Regions from separate parts of the Homo sapiens genome. Here region 1 is linked to region 2. The links come from fine-mapping of genetic effects on gene expression. Tissue or cell type: whole blood. Region 2 holds a variant in brackets; the other region holds the start of a gene. All regions are shown on one strand. Distances are between the middles of the regions.

The links. PIP is the estimated chance that this variant, and not a neighbour inherited with it, causes the effect.
Region 1: GDI2 starts here. The variant in region 2 is fine-mapped to the expression of GDI2 in whole blood (TOPMed, PIP above 0.99).

The regions. Positions count from the first base shown.
Region 1 is chr10:5,808,687-5,817,969 of GRCh38, reverse strand. It overlaps GDI2 (GDP dissociation inhibitor 2), which reads left to right and starts at 4,536. Exons shown (of 11, transcript NM_001494.4): 1 at 4,536-4,756. The coding sequence starts at 4,712. It overlaps LOC124902367 (a long non-coding RNA gene), which reads left to right and starts at 4,773. Exons shown (of 2, transcript XR_007062041.1): 1 at 4,773-5,655; 2 at 6,014-9,283. RefSeq lists enhancers at 196-315, 336-405, 3,766-3,865, 3,929-4,521, 4,522-5,114 and silencers at 4,066-4,245, 4,306-4,575, 4,716-5,255.
Region 2 is chr10:5,848,365-5,859,538 of GRCh38, reverse strand. TRV-TAC3-1 (tRNA-Val (anticodon TAC) 3-1) reads left to right here and starts at 5,756; the gene lies at 5,756-5,828. RefSeq lists a silencer at 5,707-5,907, enhancers at 6,388-6,447, 6,704-6,873, 6,968-7,057, 7,188-7,237 and a cis regulatory region at 6,788. The variant C/T (reference allele first, on the strand shown) is at 6,248.

The DNA.
Region 1 (9,283 bases), 41 kb after region 2:
GCGGAGGGAGGATCACTTCAGCCCGGGAGGCTGAGGCTGCACAGAGCTATGGTTGTGCCACTGCACTCTGGCCTGGGCAACAGAGTGAGACCCTGTCTTAAAAAAGAAAAAAGGAAACTAGTACCAATATCATCATATTCAGTCCTTGTTGATCTAGGGCTCAACTTCCAAGTCCCCTATTCATTTGTCAAATATTTACTCATCCTCTACTAGTTGCTCAGCCCTTTACTGGCTGTCCAGGCTTCATATCCCTGCCCCTATGGAGTTTACATCCAATTTGAAAAGCAAAGAACAAGTGAAGAAAATAATTACCCCCTCTAATAAGAGCAGTGAGAAACAAGCAGGGTACTGATAGAGAATGATGGTTGAGGGGAAAGCTGAGACCTAAGGAAGTGGAAAAAGTTAGCTGTATGAAGAAGTGCAGGGGGAAGTGAGGGGTGGTAGCCATGGAACCAAGAGTACAAAGGCCCTCGGGTGGTTGAAAGCTTGACCAGATTCTAGGAACCGAAACACATGCATGTTTGGGGTTTAATGATCAAGGAGCCAAGGAGCACTAAAAAATAGAGTTGGAGAGACATACAGAGGCTAGATTAAGGTATTAGGTCATATTTAAGGATTTACAATGTATCCCTTTTTTTTTTTTTTTTTTTTTTGAGATGGAGTCTTGCTCTGTCTCCCGGGCTGGAGTGCAGTGGCGCCATCTTGGCTCACTGCAACCTCTGCCTCCCAGGTTCCAGCAATTCTCCTGCCTCAGCCTCCTGAGTAGCTGGAATTACAGATGTGCACCACCACACCAGGCTAATTTTTGTATTTTTAGTAGAGACGGGGTTTCACCATGTTGGTCAGGCTGGTCTCGAACTCCTGACCTCAGGTGATCTGCCTCAGCCTCCCAAAGCACTGGGATTACAGGCGTTAGCCACCATGCCTGGCTAGGATCTACAATGTATTCTAAGTACAAAAGATATACAGAAGCCTGAACATGATCTGATGCGTGTTTTTAGAAGATAATGGACAGAACAGATAGGAGAAGAGGAAAAAGAGAGGGAAAAAAGCCTGTTGAGAAACTGCCACAGTGATGCAGGAGAGAAAAAGATGGTCTGGGCTGAGGTTCGCTCTCATTTTCTTTCCTTAGATTAAATCTCTCCTTTTCAAAGGGCAGATGGATGCTTAGTAAAAACAGATCAGCAAACAATTATTCCCATGTACCCAAGTATAAATAAGACTCCATGGATTCCTGCTTTGCATAAAGGTTTGAAATATTTTATTTTATTTTTTTTTTGAGACGGAGTCTGGCTCTGTCACTCAGGCTGGAGTGTAGTGGCGCGATCTTGGCTGACTGCAACCTCAGCCTCTCGGGTTCCACTGATTCTCCTGCCTGTCTCCCGAGTAGCTGGGACTACAGGCATGTGCCACCACACCTGGCTGATTTCAAGATTTGAAATATTTTAAAGATTGATGGTGTCCTGGTTTGATCTTGGGTTTTGGCACCAAAAAATAAAATTAAAAATAAAGATTGATGTTTACCACTCATCTTCACCAACCAACCTACTTCCCCTAAACCTAAGGTTTCACTGTAGCAGGAACTACCATCTGTGGCATGAGATCAACTCAACCAATTAGTGGCTTTCAAGCCTCTTCACCTTAAGCAGTATTTGTCATCTACAAGTTCCCTTGCAACTGGAATGGGTGGGGTGGAAGATCCAAGAAAAGCACAGAATTTTCTTTTTTTGAGACAGGGTTTTGCTCTGTTGCCCAGGCTAGAGTGCAGTGGCATCATCATGGCTTGACCTTCCTGGGCTCAAGTGATCCTCCCAGCTCAGCCTCCTGAGTAGCCAGGACTGCAGGCTCATGCCACCATGCCCAGCTGATTTTTTTTTTGAGACTGAGTCTCGCTTTGTCACCCAAGCTGGAGTGCAGTGGCACGATCTTGGCTCACTGCAACCTCTGCCTCCTGGGTTCAAGCAATTCTCTGCCTCAGACTCCTGAGTAGCTGGGATTACAGACGCCTGACACCACGCCCAACTAATTTTTGTAGTTTTCGTAGAGACGGGGTTTCACCATCTTGGGACGGGTTGGTCTTGAACTCCTGACCTCGTGATTCACCCGCCTTGGCCTCCCAAAGTGCTGGGATTACAAGCGTGAGCCACTGCACCCAGCCTGCCCAGTTTTTTTTTTTTTTTTTTTGAGACGGAGTCTCACTCTGTTGCCCAGGCGGGAGTGGAGTGGCGCGATCTCGGCTCACTTCAGCCTCCGTCTCCCGGGTTCAAGCGATTGCTCTGCCTCAGCTTCCCGGGTAGCTGGGACTACAGGCACGTGCCACCATGCCCGGCTAATTTTTGTATTTTTAGTAGAGATGGGGTTTCACCATATTGGCCAGGCTGGTCTCAAACTCCAAACTCCTGACCTTGTGATCCGCCTACCTCAGCCTCCCAAAGTGCTGGGATTACAGGCATCAATCACCGTGCCCGGCCTCCAGCTAATTTTTTTTATAGGGACAGTGTCTCTGTTACCTAGGCTCTACAGCACAGGCTGGTCCCAAGTGATTCTCCCATCTCCCACTCCTGGCCCCAAGTGATCCTCCCATCTCAGCCTCCCAAAGTGTTAGGATTACAGGTGTGAAGCACTGTGCCTGGCTCAGGTACAACATTTTAGATGCACTCAGTCCGTTAAGGCTTAGTCCAGGTTTGATTGTTATTGTCCTTCTGTTGGGCCATAGGGCCTGTACTGTGAACTAAAATGAACTTCAGTGTTAAGTAAGGAAGGGATCCTTATTAGCCTTAAATTCAATTCCCTTATCTCAGTGTCTTCAAGTTTCTCACAACTCTTGAGTATCGATAAAATAGTCTTCACCTAAAACATGGTTAACATAATTCAGTTGACATGCTTAAATTTCTCTTCAAGAGCCAGAGGCTGATGGCAATTGTGAAAAAAGCTCTTTATTGTTATTGCTAATAAAAAAAAAAGGGCCAATAGTCAGGTGTGGTGGCCTGTACCTCTTGTCCCTGCTACTGGGGAGACTGAGGTGGGAGGATGGCTTGAGCCCAGGAGATCAAGGCTGCAGTGAGGCATGATTACACCGCTGCACTCCAGCCTGGACGACAGGGTGAGATTGTCTCAGAAAAATAAAGAAAAAGGGTTATTTCATATTGGTTCAAAAATATAGGTAGTATGACCCCCTGATGACTTGAAGACAGAGCAACAGAAGGACCTTCTTTAGTCATCATTAGCTTAGCCAAAAGAAAAGTCAGTTACACTCACTGTTGCATAATCAGTTGTATGGTCAACTGTGCACTAATTCATTTGGTCACAAATATATACAATCAAATTAAGGTTGAATGTAAATTTAAACTTTACTTTTGCTTTCTTCTCCCCTCCCCCCCAGAAAGATCCATGGTCCAATATAACATATCTTCTTCAAGTATTTATGGGGTAAGAAACATTTTAAAAAGTTGTTACATTCTTTCCTCTATCTTAATGATTTAAATATGAGCAAGTTCGGTCTATCAAGGCAGGCTCTGAATAGCTACTATCGAGAAGTATTTGAGGAGTTCTTGAATGCCAAATCTTCATTGTCTGCTGACTCTGCAGATTTATCACGTGCTGAAAGCACAGGTTTTCCAACTGTCAACGTCTTTACGAAATTCACCTGCTTAGGCTTTCGTGGGGTCGGCCTCTTGGAGCTGAGAACACAGCTTCTGCTTACACCTGTGTCCTCAATGAAGCCAGAGATTCCTAAGAGAATTCTAGAAAAAGAGGAGCGGGGTAGAAGGCAAGCAAGGAACAGTTTCTAAGCTTAGGGCCTAAACCTTTGCATACAAGGATCAGCTACCACGTTTACAGCGGCTTTAAGTTACAGCCCTCGGTAGGTGCAGATCGGCTTCCCAATGAAACCTGGCTTTCACTTTCATCTCTGTTAAGGGTTACCTTTTCAAAAGAAGCCGCTTTTCCTCCTACCAATTTCCTAAAGCGCCCACCGGCAACGCACTAAACAAGGAGGGCACAGAGCGGGAAAAAGGACACGTGTGATTTCCGAACTCTTCCCGGCGGGCTCCGGGCCCCGGCAAGCCCAGCCCCGCGGGAGGAACCAAGGCCGCCACCCCCGAGAGGCAGCCCGGCCCGCGCTCCTCGCCCACGTGGCCGCCGCACGCGCCCGCTCAAAGTCCAAGGGCGGCGATCCGGCTCTGGGACCTTGGACCGAGCGAGCTCCCGCCCCGACGGCGGGAGTCAGAACGGTGGTGGCCAGCAGTCCCCGCCCGCGGCTCCGTGCACCTCCACCCCGGCCCGCGCGCCGCCTCCCGAACCACCGTGGCAGAGGCCGCAAGGGGAACCGGAAGCCAAAATGGCGACGCCCCGCCCTTTTCCTCTCGCGAGAGGCGGGGAAGGAAAAAAAGTTGTGCGAGCGACGGGGACGTAACCAATTAGAGTGCCGGGAGCGCCTGATTGGCGGCCCTCCCGGCGCCTGCAGGCCCCGCCCCGGCTGCGGAGGCTCAGTCACAGCCCTCCCCTCCTCGCTCCCTCCCCTCCTCTCCCCGCCCAGTTCTTCTCTTCCCGTCTGAGGTGGCGGTCGGTCTCGCCTTGTCGCCAGCTCCATTTTCCTCTCTTTCTCTTCCCCTTTCCTTCGCGCCCAAGAGCGCCTCCCAGCCTCGTAGGGTGGTCACGGAGCCCCTGCGCCTTTTCCTTGCTCGGGTCCTGCGTCCGCGCCTGCCCCGCCATGAATGAGGAGTACGACGTGATCGTGCTGGGCACCGGCCTGACGGTGGGCGCCAGGGCTGAGGGGCCGGGGCTGAGCAGCCGGGGCGGGCGCACCCCCGGCTCCTGCACGGCCCGCGGGTCGCAGCTCCTCGGGGGTCTCGTTCTGCCGTCAGCCGTAGTTTTCGGGACGGGAGTCGTGGCTAGGGGCGCGGGCGGGTTCAGGGGCGCCCCGCGTCCCGGGGCGAGCGGGCGGCTCCCAGTGTGAGGGGCAGGCGGGGAAATGGAGATGCGGGCCGTGAGGCTCGGGGCGGGGTGACGGCCGAGCCCGGCCTCTGCGCTTGCCCCCAGCGGAAGCGGAGGGGAGGGGAGAAGGCCGCCCGGGCCAAGGGTCCCGCTCCCCGGTTTGGGCCGGTGACCTCGCCCGGTTGGAAACCAGCACCCGAGGCGGAGGGGACGGTGCAGGCCTCGCGGTTGCATTTCCTATTCCGCCTCGGCCGCTGCCCCGGGTCAGTCTGGCTGCCAAAGCCGAGTACGGGGTTTCCTGACAAGTCTTGGATAATCACTGCTTCGGAACTGCTAGGGCTTGATTAACTTATATTTTTGGCGAAAACGTGGAAATTAGTCTTTTAATCCTTTCTCCCCCCTGCTAATGAGAAGTATTATTGAATCCTTTTAGCCACCCTCCCTTCTCACTTACTGAGCATCTGTAGAATTGGAATTGAGTTTTTTCAAAACTTGTCCGTCAAATGCTTTCGCACCTGACCTTCGCCGCCTTTTCCTTTTGTTTGGTGGGTTCTCTGCCTCCTTTGTCTCTTCTGGACTGTTTTCCCCTAAGAATTGGGTTGGTGATGGATTGCTAAAAGCCAAGTTCTCTGTACTCCGAAGCTTTCTTCAGGGAGTTGGAAGATAATAACATGAAGAATGCATTGTAATATATGAATGCAAGGTGTACCTAATATCATGGTATATTGATTTTCCTGGTTATCTGTTTCTAAGGGAACTTTAGGTAATCTGTAGATAACGCAGGCAGGTTCTGTAGTTTGTACTTTTTCTGTTCTTTTTTTTTTTTTTTTAAATGTTCATCTTGCAAAAGAATTCACTTTGGAGAAAACCATTTTAACTATCAATTTTTGGGGAAATTTGAAATTCTAACTTTGGGCTGCTTGATCATAATTAAGATGAATACTGATGTAAATCTTGTGTATCCTATGTACTCTGACTTCAAATTCCTGAGTCATTTAATGTAGACTTCCACTTCAAATTTTTTGAAATTTATTATAATCTCTCAGGGTCAAACCAATTTTTTTTTTTTTTTTTACAGGTAACATCCCAAAATAACACTTTTAGATGTCTCTAGGCAAGAGAAAACCTTCGAACTTTTATTTGGCTAATTTTTTAGGAAAGGTTTGTGAAGAATTAGAATCGTGTTTTTCTGGTCTGTCATTTTTCTGTTTATAGTTATATGCAATTATTAGAGAATATTCATTCTGAATACTTCGTTATGTTTGACCAATCCAGGAATAATCCTGTGTCTGTCTTTGAAAAGCTGGAAGACTGTTGGATGCCTAAATGAATAGGCCCTACCCACTGCAGGTTTTGTGCTTTTTTTTTTTTTTTTTTAAGTGCCTAATTGGGATTCCAAGCTGAGCTTAGTAGTTTGTGGTGGATTTTGCCTGTTGGAATGGGTAGTGTTGCTGCCAGCGTGTTTTAAGAGCCGGTTAGTTCCACCGTTTTTCTATGGTTGTTGCTGGTCTTTCAGATTTGCTCACAATTGAGGTCAGTTAAGCATGCACGAGTGAGTGCAAATCCACCATCATGCAGGCTTCCACAAGCCTCGTTCACATCACTTTGTATCAAAGATGGTGAAAGTGTTTTTATATAACAAGTTAAGATAATGAGCTTTGTTTAAATTTTCATTCGGATTGTGAACTCTTTGATGAATGGTAGATGCATACTTAACTAGAAATCAGACCTGTTTCTGCTGTCATTTTGTAGCTGTGATAACTTTAATCTCTGTGAGCCTTCCTAAGTTTTCTGAGATGTTCTTTGATAATTATATCAATTCAGGACAATCACATTATTACCATCATTGATAGGAGTAGTGATGACAGGATGATTTTGATAATGAGAAATCATATATCCTTATTTTTAGTGTTACCAGGAATTAGATGATTAAAAATTAGAAGAAGAGAAAACCAAAGTTAGCACTCAGAATTAACTTTTGAATGTCTGGAGTTAATTAATTTTCTTAAAATTTACTTTAGTGCCTGAGACTTAAGAACCTAAAAAAAGGCAAGTACTTTCAGTGTTAGGAACTTGTTACTTTTAAAGAAGTGTAAGGAAGTGCTGGAGTTGCTGTGTTGCTTAGTGCTGCCATTGTTTGTATGAGTTGTTAAGTCTAAGCTCATAATCACAAATATTGATAGTTATCTTAATCAAGAAGATACAAAACGATTTGGTATAAAGGAGTAAAATCTTCATTCTGTGTGTAAAAGAAATGGAATATTCCACACAATTGAATTTTCTGAGGAACTAAAGGTTATCTCTAAAGAGCACAGCTTTTGGATAATGCCTTTCTAAATGCTGTCACAACTTCTTTAACAAACTAAGAAACATAATTTACTTGATAACCAAGTTTTCACATAGTGAAGATTAACTATTGTGTTATGCTGTAACATGGTGAAGCCATGAAGACCCCGCCAGCTTTGTAGGAACTTTTGCCCCCTTTACTCTCAGGCTGCTATGCTTTTTGAGCTCTTCAGTTTACTCTTCATATTTTTTCCCTCTATCTTACTTTACTGTTAGGCTGGCAACATTTACTTTTCTCTGCTTTCAGCATGTGTAGGCAGCCTCTCACCACATAATTTGCACATAGTTCACTATGGACTTGGAAATAAATTCACGAGTCTTGTTAGACATAGTAGATTAAAACAATAAGAGTAACTAGTTCCACAGCTGTTTGTGCTTCCCAGAGGTTTTTTTCTTCCCATTTTTTGTTCTACACAGTAAGAATTTATGAATAGAAATATATACTTTAGTGATGTATACCAGATGATTCTCAGCATCATATGTTTAAAAACTTGCTTTACATCCCAGATACTTTTCCTCATTTCTCTTTATCAGAATTTTGTGATTTCAGATTCAGAGAAGGTTTTATACTTGATTTTAAAATTCTGAACTAAAATTCAGATTGCCTCTTGGATTTGCTTAATCTTTGATTTGCTCTTTGAGAGTTCTTGCTTATAGCTGTGTTAGAGTTCTGTAGACAAAGGACTTTCTATTCACTACAGTAGTGAGCATAGGATCAATATTTGCAAATGCTGTTACACTTGGGAGCTGTGTTGTAGGCAGTTTAAACCAGCGTTAAGCATCCTGGCCAAAAGAAAATATAAGTGAAATTAGACATATTTTAGCATGTAGAGATGACAATAGTGTGACATTGGTTTTTAAAGACCACTGGTAGATGTTCACATGCGTGATACACTGCAATTACCTCTGTCTTCCCTCCCATGGTACCTGATTGGAGACTCTTACTGGAGTAATAGTTTCAGTTTCAGTTATTTAAACCCAGTGACTATTGTGATCAGTTATGGGCAGTAAAAAGGTAAACACAGAACCTGTCTATAAGTAGCTTGTTCTCGTGTTGGAGAGTAACTAATAAGAATTAGTATGAGAAAGCATTAAGTCCCCTAAGAGGTGCACTTATATGAGTTCAGTCAGGGAATCAGGAAAACCTTCGTAAAGAAGGAGATATTTAGCTGGCTTTAAAAAAATATTGGCAAGGTTTGAATGGAGGAATGATTTTTTAGGCAGAGAGCAGTCAGTGTAAGTCAATGCTAAGTCAAGGATGTATGTAGGGAATGGGGAGTGGTTTGTTTTGCTTGAAACAGAAGCTTTGGAGAGAGATTCTAGGCTAAGAAATGTGAAAATTATCTTCAAGGCAGTGAGAGAGGACTTTGAGCAGGAGAGTGATATAATTAGCCACATTTCAAGAGAAGGTATCTTTTGACAGTTTTTTTTTTTGTTTTTTTTTGAGATGGAGTCTCACTCTGTTGCCCAGGCTGGAGTACAGTGATGTGATCTCGGCTCACCGCAACCTCTGCTTCCCAGGTTCAAGCAGTTCTCCTGTCTCAGCCTCCCGGGTAGCTGGGATTACAGGTGCCTGCCACCATGCCCAGCTAATATTTGTATTTTTAGTAGAGATGGGGTTTCACCATATTGATCAGGCTGGTCTCGAACTCCTAACCTCAGGTGATCCACCCGCCTAGGCCTCCCAAAGTGCTGGGATTATAGGCATGAGCCACCGCGCCTGGCTGACAGTTTTTAATGAGATGCATTAGAGGGGCAGAGTCATTTAAAGAAACATTCTTCATAAAACAGCCATTTTTATTATGTTGCTGTAAGATACTTGCCATTGAAATGAACTGATTTAAAATTTTTCTGGTTAATTTCTCATGTTTCTAGGTAAGTAGTTTTGAAAAGGCACTTTAATATTAGTTATTAGATACTTTGTACTCCTGATCACATTTGTGTGTGTGTGTGTGTGTGTGTATTTGTAGTTTTTTTTTTTTTTTTTTTTTAATAACAACAA
Region 2 (11,174 bases):
CCCTTCTCAGCCTCCTGAGCAGCTGGGACCACAAGCACGCACCAGCTCGCCCAGCTAATTTTTAAAATTTATGTAGAGATTCCACTTTTATAGGGGGGTCTCACTGTGTTGGCCAGGCTGGTCTCGAACTCCTGGCCTTAAGCAGTCCTTTCACCTTGGCCTCCAAAAGTGTTGGGATTACAGGCATAAGCCACCACACCCGGCCTTGGCATTTCTCAATCAGATTGAAGATCTTTAGATTTGTTTTTTTGGCCATTATAGCCCTTTTTCCTATTTTTACCTGTATCAGTTAGCTGTTACTAAATGACAGACCACCCCAAAGCTCACTGGGTTGAAACAGGAGTCTGTAGGGCATCTGGGTGGCTTTGCTGCTCGCAACTGGGCTCACTCCTGCGTCCCGTCAGCCAGTGAGTTGCTGAGCTGGTATAGGATGGCCTTGGGTGGATCAAGCTGGCTCTGCTCCCCATGGTCTCTCCATTCGGCTAGCCCAGGCTTATTTTTCATGACAGTGGCAGAGATTCAAGAGAGAAAAGAGACTTAAATGTGCTTTCCAGTCTCCGCTCTGTTTGTGTAGATGCTTCCATCCCATTGGCCAAAGCAAGGCATGGTCATGCCCAGAATTAGTGTAGGGGGCAGAACCCACAGACTGGACACAGAGGCCATTGATTGGGGCCATTAATGAAACCAGTTCTTGCTTCATCTTTTGACCATTGTTTTGTCTTGTTGATTTGTAAGAGTCATTTTTATATTGGGTAAATTAGCTCTACACATAATTTCAAATAATGACAAAATTTGGGTTATACATTTACAAGTAAAAAAAAAAACAGACTACAGCACAGCAGAAATAATCTCCTTTATAGCTCCTTTAAAAAAAAAGAGCTCTTGTGAGTAGATACAGGCATACACAGGCACTCACTACAATGCTGGGAGTGGGATGGCACAGATTCCTTGGATATGATAGGGTGTTTCTATTTAGATTACAGTATGTGGTACCTTTAAAGCAGCTCTCAGAGTTCTAGAGCTTCCACCTGTGCCAGCCTACAACATGCATGGTCTTTATTTTTCCCAGTGTTGCTGAAAATCCACGATTAGCTAAAAGGTAAATGAACGCAAAAGACGTAGGAACAAAATCCAGCTTGTGGCTCGTCCTGTCCCTTGAACACAGAGCCTTGGGTCTACCACATCCTTTCCTCTCTTCCAGCTGATACAGACTTAGATAATTCCATTTTGTGATTTAATATTAGATGGAGGTGGGGTGGCTCACACCTGTAATCCCAGCACTTTGGGAGGCTGAGGCTGGAGGATGCCTTGAGCCCAGGAGTTCACAGCTGCAGTGAGCTATGATCACACCACTGCACTCCAGCCTAGGTGACTGAGTGAGACCCTGTCTCTAAATAAAGACCAAAAAATAACAGTGGACTAAACCAAAGTTTATTTTCTTTCCCGCATAAGAGTCTGGGCATAGCCAAGTACAGATGAGCTCAACCAGCCCCAGGTGTCAGCCCCCCGGTTCCTTCTGCTGGTTGTTCTGCTGTCCTGAGTAGGTTGCCCTTTTCCATGTGGTCCAAGATTGCTCCCCAACCTGTGGAGGGGAACAGGAATGAAGGGGAGGGCCAGGCGCAGTGGCTCACACCTGTAATCCCAGCACTCTGGGAGGCTGAGGCAGGTGGATCACTTGAGGCCAGAAGTTCGAGACCAGCCTGGCCAACATGGTGAAACCCTGCCTCTACTAAAAATACAAAAATTAGGCTGGGCACCGTGGCTCCTGCCTGTAATCCCAGCACTCTGGGAGGGTGAGATGGGTGGATCAGCTGAGGTCGGGACTTGGAGAGCAGCCTGACCAACATGGAAAAACCCCATCTCTACTAAAAATACAAAATTAGCCGGGCATGGTGGCACATGCCTGTAGTCCCAGCTACTCGGGAGGCTGAGGCAGGAGAATCTCCTGAACCTGGGAGGCGGAGGTTGCAGTGAGCCGAGATCGTGCCATTGCACTCCAGCCTGGGCAACAAGAGCGAAACTCCATCTCAAAACAAACAAACAAAAATTAGCTGGGCATGGTGGCACACACCTGTACTCCCAGCTACTTGGGAGGTTGAGGCAGGAGAATCGCCTGAACCCGGGAGGCAGAGATTACAGTGAGCTGAGATTGCATCTCTGCACTCCAGCCTGGGAGACAGAGTGAGACCCTGTCTCGAAAAAAATAAAATAAAAAAAATATATAAAAGAAAAAAGAATGAAAGGGAGGCTATGCATGCCCCCTTTTTTTCAGAAGGCATGTAGATCATTTCTGTTCACATCCTCCTGACCATAGATCAGTCATATGACTGCTAGAAGAAAATTGAAATTTAGGGATGGTTCAGGGCTTTGCCATATGCCCTTATCAGAGGTGCCTTCATTGAGACTATTTGGGGACAATTATCTGTGCAAGTCTTTGCTGCTGTCCCCACCCTTCCCCTAACACACACACTCCTTAACCTTAGCTTTTAAAGTCTTAGAGACCAGAGAGCAAATCCACTTATTTATAGATACGCAGTTGTAAGGGACATGAGAACAATCTGTGAAGATGGCATTCGGAGCAGAGAACAAGGCCGCATAGCCGTGTAGGGTGTTAGTCCCCTACAGTGATGCTCCAAGTGACCTCATGCAGGTCACACTCCCTGCCTCTCAGTGTCCTGGTAAACGATGGGCAAAATGGCACCTCCTTCCCAGGTTTACTGTGAGGATTAACCGAGTTGGTGTGTGTCAGACCCCGGTCCAGGTCCAGCCCATGCTGAAGTCCAAGGTGAGTGGGGTGGATGAGCAGAAACGCTTTGGTGCAGGGGGCCTAGGCAGGTGAATATGGTTTTATTCAGCAGCAGTTCTCATCAATGGCTTTTTATTAGCAGCTTACTCACATTAGCTCTCTCACCCTGTCCACCTTTATCTCTGCTATTTGCTTTGGCTCTGTGGCTCCTGTGACCCCCGGCTCTCCCTTGCCTTCAGGGTCAGCAGCTTAACTCTTTCTTTCTCTGGCACAAGCAAGCAGAGCTGTGTCCTGGCTCCCTCCTGTCTGTCTACAAGATGGACAGCTTTGGCTGTCTCCCTTTCTCTGGGCGCCAGCGCACCCACCACATCAAGCCATGTCGAGCCAAGCTGAGCCTCAAAAGCACCTGTACGGCGTCAGCAGGGCAGTTATACCTTTTACAGACAATAGTGGCTCAGAGCCAAGTATGAACTTACACAAACAGGTTATGTAACAAGCGGAGGTGTGCGCCTGCGCACCAAACTCACTGAGCCGTGCAGGCCTGTATATCCGCCTCGGTCTCTACCTTGACCAAATCACATCTATATACCTTACAGCGTGCATGATGCTTGGCCCAGCACGTGCACCCAACACGTGTGAGCCATTGTGAGTAACAGTCGCACCAGGTGAGCCTCTTTGGCTTAATGGGCTGAGTCGTCAAAGGCGAATGAAAATCATCAAGTTAGCAGCACAAGACCAAGAAGAGCTCAACTGAAGAAAGCAGTGAGACAAACACCATTTTTAGCCCCTTTTCCTACTTTTTCTCTTTCTCTTTCCCTCCCTGGGGATGTATGTCCTTAGCCCTTGGACGCCTCCATTGTCTTTATCAAAAAGAAAACTAGGTTTCAGTCTTCATTCATGCTAAGGTGTTAATGAAAAAATTTCAAATTTTATCAATCCTTGAGTTGTCTGCATTTTTTTTTTTTTGAGACAGGATTTCACTGTCAGGCTGGAGTGCAGGGGTGTGATCCCGGCTTACTGCAGCCTCTGACTCCTGAGTTCAAGCGATCTTCCTACCTCAGGCTCCCAAGTAGCTGGGACCACAGGCAGGCACCACCACACCTAGCTAATTATTTTTTTGTATTTTTTTTAGTAGAGACAGGGTTTCACCATGTTGCCCAGGCTGGTCTCAAACTCCTGGGCTCAAGTGATCTGCTCACCTCAGCCTCCCAAAGATATGAGCCACCATGCCCAGCCAATTGTCTGCATTTTAACAAGGATCAAATTATTAAACCGAAAGAATGAAGCTCTCAATATGAAATGCATGCGTCATTAAAAATGTAAAGAAGTATTTTCAAAAATGTATTCTAACTGGGCCTTCCTTCATATCTTTATTTGTATTTTTTGTTTTTTGTTTTTTTTGAGACATAGTCTCCCTCTGTCACCCAGGCTGAGTAGCACCAGGTGAGCCTCTTTGGCTTAATGGGCTGAGTCGTCAAAGGCGAATGAAAATCATCAAGTTACCAGCACAAGACCAAGAAGAGCTCAACTGAAGAAAGCAGTGAGACAAGCACCATTTTTAGCCCCTTTTCCTAGTTTTCTTTTGCTCCTTCCCTCCCTGGGGATGGAAGTGCAGTGGCATGACCTCGGTTCACTGCAACCTCCGCCTCCTGGGTTCAAGCCATTCTCATGCCTCCGCCTCCTGAGAAGCTGGTACACACACACTCAGGTGTGTGCCACCACACCTGGCTAATTTTTGTATTTTTAGTAGAGACGGGGTTTCACCATGTTGGACAGGCTGGTCTCAAACTCCTGGCTTCAAGCAATCCACCCACCTCAGCTTCCAAAGTGCTGGAATTACAGGCGTAAGCCACCGTGCCTGGTTTGTATCTTTATATTTGTTTATTTATTTTTTTTTTTTTTGAGACGGAGTTTCACTCTTGTTGCCCAGGTTGGAGTGCAATGACACAATCTCGGCTCACTGCAACCTCTGCCTCCTGGGTTCAAGCAATTCTCGTGCCTCAGCCTCCTGAGTAGCTGGGATTACAGGTGCCCGCCACCACGCACAGCTGATTTTGTATTTTCAGTAGAGACGGGGTTTCACCATGTTGGTCAGGCTGATCTCAAACTCCCTACCTCAGGTGATCCGCCCGCTTCCGCCTCCCAAAGTGCATTACAGGCATGAGCCATCACGCCTGGCTGGGTCTTTATAATTTTTTTATAATTAAGACATTTTCTGTCCCTTTCATGACTACATCTTGTTAATTCAATTTCTATTCAGCATCTCAAATAGGTCCACTTTCAACAAGCCCACCGACAGCCACTAGGCAACTCCAGCCATTGTCCTCTTGTTCCAGGTACTGTGGCTGCACAGCAAATTACCCCCAAATCTAGCCGTGTAAAGCAGCCCTTTGTTATGCTCATGGATTCTATGTATAGGAATTCAGACAGGGTCCAGCAGCGATGGCTTGTCTCTGCTCCCAGGGACTGGGGATTGCAGCTGGAAGATTTGAAGGCTGAAATCACCCATGTCTGGCAGATGCTGCTGGCTGACGACCTCAGTTCCTCCTCACATGGGCCTCTCCCTCGGTCTCTCCATGTGGGCTGGTGTGAGCTGAGAGAGAGGGAGGGAGCGCCAGGCAAGGCCATATTGCCTGTCATAGCCTAACTTTATTTATGTATTTATTTATTTATTTATTTTTTTGAGACAGGGTCTCGCTCTGTTGCCCGGGCTAGAGTGCAGTGGCACGACCTCAGCTCACTGCAACCTCTGCCTCCCTGGTTCAAGCAATTCTCCTGCCTCAACCTTCCAAGTAGCTGGAACTACAGACACATGCCACCACGCTTGGCTAATTTTTTTTGTATTTTTAGTAGAGACGGAGTTTTGCCATGTTGCCCAGGCTGGTCTCGAACTCCTGACCTCAGGTGATCTACCCACCTTGGCCTCCCAAAGTGCTCGGATTACATGTGTGAGCCACTGTGCCCAGCCTCATGGCCTCATAGTCTAGCTTTGAAACTCAGCTAGCCTGTGGTTCCATAGTGTAGTGGTTATCACATCTGCTTTACACGCAGAAGGTCCTGGGTTCAAGCCCCAGTGGAACCATGGTGTGGTCTGTTGTTTTCCTGCCTGTAATCCTAGCTCCTCGGGAGGCTGAGGCAGGAGAATCACTTGAACCCAGAGGCAGAGGTTGCAGTGAGCTGAGACTGCGTGAAACTCATCTCAAAAAAAAAAAAAAAAGTCATGCAACGTCGCTTTGCCACATCCATTTGTCAAGGCAGTCAAAGTCTCGCCCGGGTTCAAGGTGAGGGAAGTAGACTCCACCTCTTGATGGGAGTGGTAAAGTTCTGGAAGAACAGGTGGGAGTGGAAATGCGGGAGCACCTTTCAGACATGGGCTCTGCCATGTTTCCCTTGGCTGAGTTACTGGGATGGCCTCATCACTGGCCTTGCTACTTCCACTTTTTTTTTTTTTTTTTTTTTTTGAGACAGAGTTTTGCTCTTGTTACCCAGGCTGGAGTACAA[C/T]GGCGTGATCTCAGCTCACCGCAACCTCCGCCTCCTGGGTTCAAGCGATTCTCCTGCCTCAGCCTCCCGAGTAGCTGGGATTCCAGGCATGTGCCACCACACCCGGCTAATTTTGTGTTTTTAGTAGAGATGTGGTTTCTTCATGTTGGTCAGACTGGTCTCCAACTCCCGACCTCAGGTAATCTGCCCTCCTCGGCCTCCCAAAGTGCTGGGAGTACAGGCGTGAGCCACAACACCCGGCCCTACTTTTTTGTTTTCTTTTGTTTTTGTTTTTGTTTTTGAGACAGAGTCTCACTTTGTCACCAGGCTGGAGTGTAGGGGGTGTGATTTCGGCTCACTGCAACCTCCACCTCCTGAGTTTAAGCGACTCTTCTGCCTCAGCCTCCTGAGTAGCTGGGACTACAAGCACCTGCCACCACGCCCAGCTAATTTTTGTTTTTTTTTTTAGTAGAGGTGGGGGTCACAATGTTGGCCAGGCTGGTCTTTAACTCCTGACCTAAAGTGATCCGCCCGCTTCAGCCTCCCAAAGTGCTGGGATTACAGGCGTGAGCCACCGTGCCCAGCCTACTTCTACTTTTGTACTTCCCTTTCTGTGACTCTCACAGAGCAGCCTGGGAAAGCTAGAAACAGATTAGCTTGTGCCCCTCCCTGCCTCTTACTTCTCAGGGTAGAACTGCCAAGGAGGCCAGAGGGACAGCCCAGTCTGTCACCGCAGACGCCTCTCACTCACCCTCTCTTCACGCCCCAGGCCTCCTTTCAGTTCCTCAAACAAAACGGACCAAGCCGATTTCCTTCCACCTCAGTGTCTTCCTGGAAATTTCTTTTCTCAACTTGTCATGAGTTTGATTCCTATTCGCCCTTCTTGCCACAGCCTGAATGTCTCTCCCTGGACAGGAACCATCGCTGATTCCACTCTAAAAATCCTTCCTGAAATCCTGTCACGTCACTTGTGCCAACGTGGATGAAGCTGCAGGACGTGATGTTAGGGTGAGACAAGCCAGGCTCAGAGAGACAAACACTGTAAGATCTCACTCATATGTGGCATCTAAAAACAGCAAACCTGGCAGGGCACAGGGGCTCACGCCCGTAATCTCAGCACTTTGGGAGGCCGAGGCGGGCGGATCATGAGGTCAAGAGTTTGAGACCAGTCTGGCCAATATAGTGAAACTCCATCTCTACTAAAAATACAAAAATTAGCTGGGCACGGTGATGCACGCCTGTAGTCCCAGCTACTCGGAAGGCTAAGGCAGGAGAATCGCTTGAACCCGGGAGGCAGAGGTTGCAGTGAGCTGAGATTGCACCATTGCACTCCAGCCTGGGCGACACAGCAAGACTTTGTCTCAAAAAAAAAAAAAAAAAAAAAAAAAAAGCACGAATCCCATTCATGGGGGCCTCACTCTCATGACCTCATCACCTCCCAAAGGCTCCACCTCTTAATACCGTCACCTTGGGAGTTAGGGTTTCCACCTATGAATTGTTCCACCTGTGAACACAAACATTCTGATCATTGCAGTATTTTTATCACAATAATAATAAAAAATACGTCGGGCGCGGTGGCTCACGCCTGTAATCCCAGCACTTTTGGAGGCCGAGGCAGGCGGATCACGAGGTCAGCAGATCAAGACCATCCTGGCTAACACAGTGAAACCCTGTCTCTACTAAAAATACAAAAAAATTAGCTGGGCATGTTGGCGGGTGGCTGTAGTCCCAGCTACTCGGGAGGCTGAGGCAGGAGAATGATGTGAACCCGGGAGGAGGAGCTTGCAGTGAGCCGAGATGGCACCACTGCACTCCAGCCTGGGCGACAGACCAAGACTCCGTCTCAAAAAAATAAATAAATAAATAAAATAATAATAATAATAATAAAGATGGCAGGAGAAATCCTTTGGAGGTCATGGGTATGTTTCTAACATAGATTTTGGTGATGGTTTCACGGGTGCATACTTATCCCCAAACTCATCAAGCTGTATACACTAAATATGCGCATATTTGTATGTCACTCATACTTCAATAAAGTGGTTGTAAAAAATCAATAAATAGGCCAGGTGTGGTGGCTCACGCCTGTAATCCCAGCACTGTGGGAGGCCAAGGTGGGCGGATCACGAGGTCAGGAGTTTGAGACCATCCTGGCCAACACGGTGAAACCCCGTCTCTGCTAAAAAACAAACGAACAAAAAAATTAGCCGGGCGTGGTGGCGGGCGCCCTTAGTCCCAGCTGCTCCGGAGGCTGAGGCGAGAGAATGGCATGAACCCGGGAGGCGGAGCTTGCAGTGAGCCGAGATTGTGCCACTGCACTCCAGCCTGGGTGACAGAGCAAGACTCCATCTCCAAAAAAAAAAAAAAAGGATACAAAAATTAGCCGGCTGTGGTGGTAGATGCCTGTAATCCCAGCTACTCAGGAGGCTGAGGCAGAATTGCTTGAACCTGGGAGGCAGAGTTTGCCGTGAGCTGCGATCGCGCCACTGCACTCCAGCCTGGGTGACAGAGCAAGACTCTGTCTCGAAAAAGAAAAAAGAAAAGAAAATCAGTAAATAAAAAAGAAAATCAGTAAATAAAGCTATGCGTAGTGGCACATGTTTGTAATTCCAGCTACTCGAGACTCAGATGGGAAGATTGCTCCAGCCCAGGAATTCGACACTGCAGTGAGCTATGATTGCACCATTTCACTCCAGCCTGGGCAGCAGAATGAGACCCTGTCTCTAAAAAAATAAAAATAAAAATAAAGGATTAAAACTAAAAATCAGGCCAGGCACTTTGGGAGGTCGAGGTGGGAAGATCGTTTGAACCCAGGAGTTCAAGACCATTCTGGGCAACATAGCAAGACCCCATGTCTACCATAAGTAAATAAATATCAACAAATAAAAGCAGGCCCTTCCTGACAAATTCTCTCAGCACTCTGTAACATTCCTTCCAGGTATTGACAATATTCGTTCATATGGTTTTTGAATAGCATCCTTTCCTACAAAACTGGAAGGTCCCCAAGAGCAGTGTCCATGCCTGCTGTGTGCCAGGCGTGGAGGAGATCCTCTGTGGATGTTTGCTGAATGAATGAATGATACAGGGGAGGAGCAGCGAACAAAGAGTCTGTCTTCACCTTCAAGAATCAACCTCTGAAAGAAGAGCCAGGGCCGGGTGTGGTGGCTCACACCCAGCACTTTGGGAGGCCGAGGCAGGTGGATCACCTGAGGTCAGGAGTTTGAGACCTGCCTGGCCAACATGGCAAAACCTCATCTCTACTAAAAGTACAAAAAAATTAGCCGAGCGTGGTGACGGGCGCCTGTAATCCCAGCTACTTGGGAGGCTAAGGCAGGAGAATTGCTTGAACCCAGGGGGCGGAGGTTGCAGTGAGCCGATATCACACCATTGCACTCCAGTGACAAGAGCAAAACTCCATCTCAAAAAACAAACAAACAAAAACAAGAAGAGCCAGGGCTGGGCACAATGGCTCACACCTGTAATCCCAGCAATTTGGGAGGCTGAGGCTCAAAGAAGATTATTTGAACCCAGGAGTTTGAGACCAGCCTGGGCAACATAGGGAGACTCTGTCTCTACAAGAAATAAAAAATCAGCCAGGCATGGTGGTGCACACCTGTGGTCCCAGCTTCAGGAGACTGAAGCGGGGGGGATCGCTTGAACCCAGGTCGAGGCTGCAGTGAGCTGTGATTGTACCACTGCATTCCAGCCTGGAAGACAGAACAAGGCTCTATCTCTAATATTAATAACAACAATAATAATACAAGAAGAGCAAGACTGGCATCACCATAAGACAAGTGCAGTGTGATAAGGACTACCAGAGAGCTAGAAAGGCGAGGCTGGAAGGGAAGTCTTCCTGGAGAAAGTGGAATGAGGGCCAAGACTTGAGGAATGGAAGGAAGTTGATTGGTGGAGAAGTTGGGCAGCTCTTTCTGAGCAGAGTCAAGATGTGGATGTGATAGCATGAAACTTGGCTGGCCAAGTAAGATGCCAGACCCCTGGTTATGTTTGAATTTCAGGTAAGCAATGAGTTATTTCTTGTTATCAGTAATGTCCCAAATAATTGCACAAAACCTATTTATTCTAAAAAAGTATTTGTGGCTTATCTGAATTCATGTTGAACTAGGTGGCTTATATTTTTGTTGTTGTTGTTTGTTTTCGTTTTTTTGAGACAGGCTCTCGTTCTGTCACCCAGGCTGGAGTGCAGTGTCACAATCTCAGCTCACTGCATCCTCCACCTCCTGAGTTCAAGCAATTCTCCTGCCTCAGCCTCCTGAGTAGCTGGGATTACAGACGTGCACCACCACGCCTGGCTAATTTTTGTGTTTTTTAGTAGAAATGGGGGTTTCACTGTGTTGGCCAGACTGGTCTCGAACCCCTGGCCTCAAGTGATCTGCCCACTTCAGCCTCCCAAAGTGTGGGGATTACAGGTGTGAGCCACTGCACCTGGCCTGTCTTGTATTTTTATTTGCTAAGTCTGGCAACCCTAGATGAGATGCTAATCCATGTGGCAATTTGGCTCTTTCTGAAAGGGCATAAATGAACTCTATTTCTTAGCTGACCACAGGAAAAAAAATGAGTTAAACTGAATTTGGAGCCCAGATTCTCAATCATTGCTGAAAGAATCAACCTCAAAATCTCAGGAACTTACCAGAGTAAATGTTTATTTCTCGTCTGTGAAATGTCTGACGTGGATGTTCTTGGTTCATGGGTTTTCCCTGAACCAAGATGGTTTTCCGCTGAGCGGTAAACTCAAGGACACAGGCTCCTTCTGCTGTGCAGTGTCACCAGCTTGGACTCCTTGGCTTCCAGTCACACAAACTGAGGAAAGAGACAGCAGGAGCTGTCACACAGCCCTTCTGTGGGCAGGCCTGCCAATGGCCTCAACTCTGGCCATGTTCCATTAGCAACACTAGGTGTGTGACTCCACCCAGATGCTGGGAGGGCCTAGAAA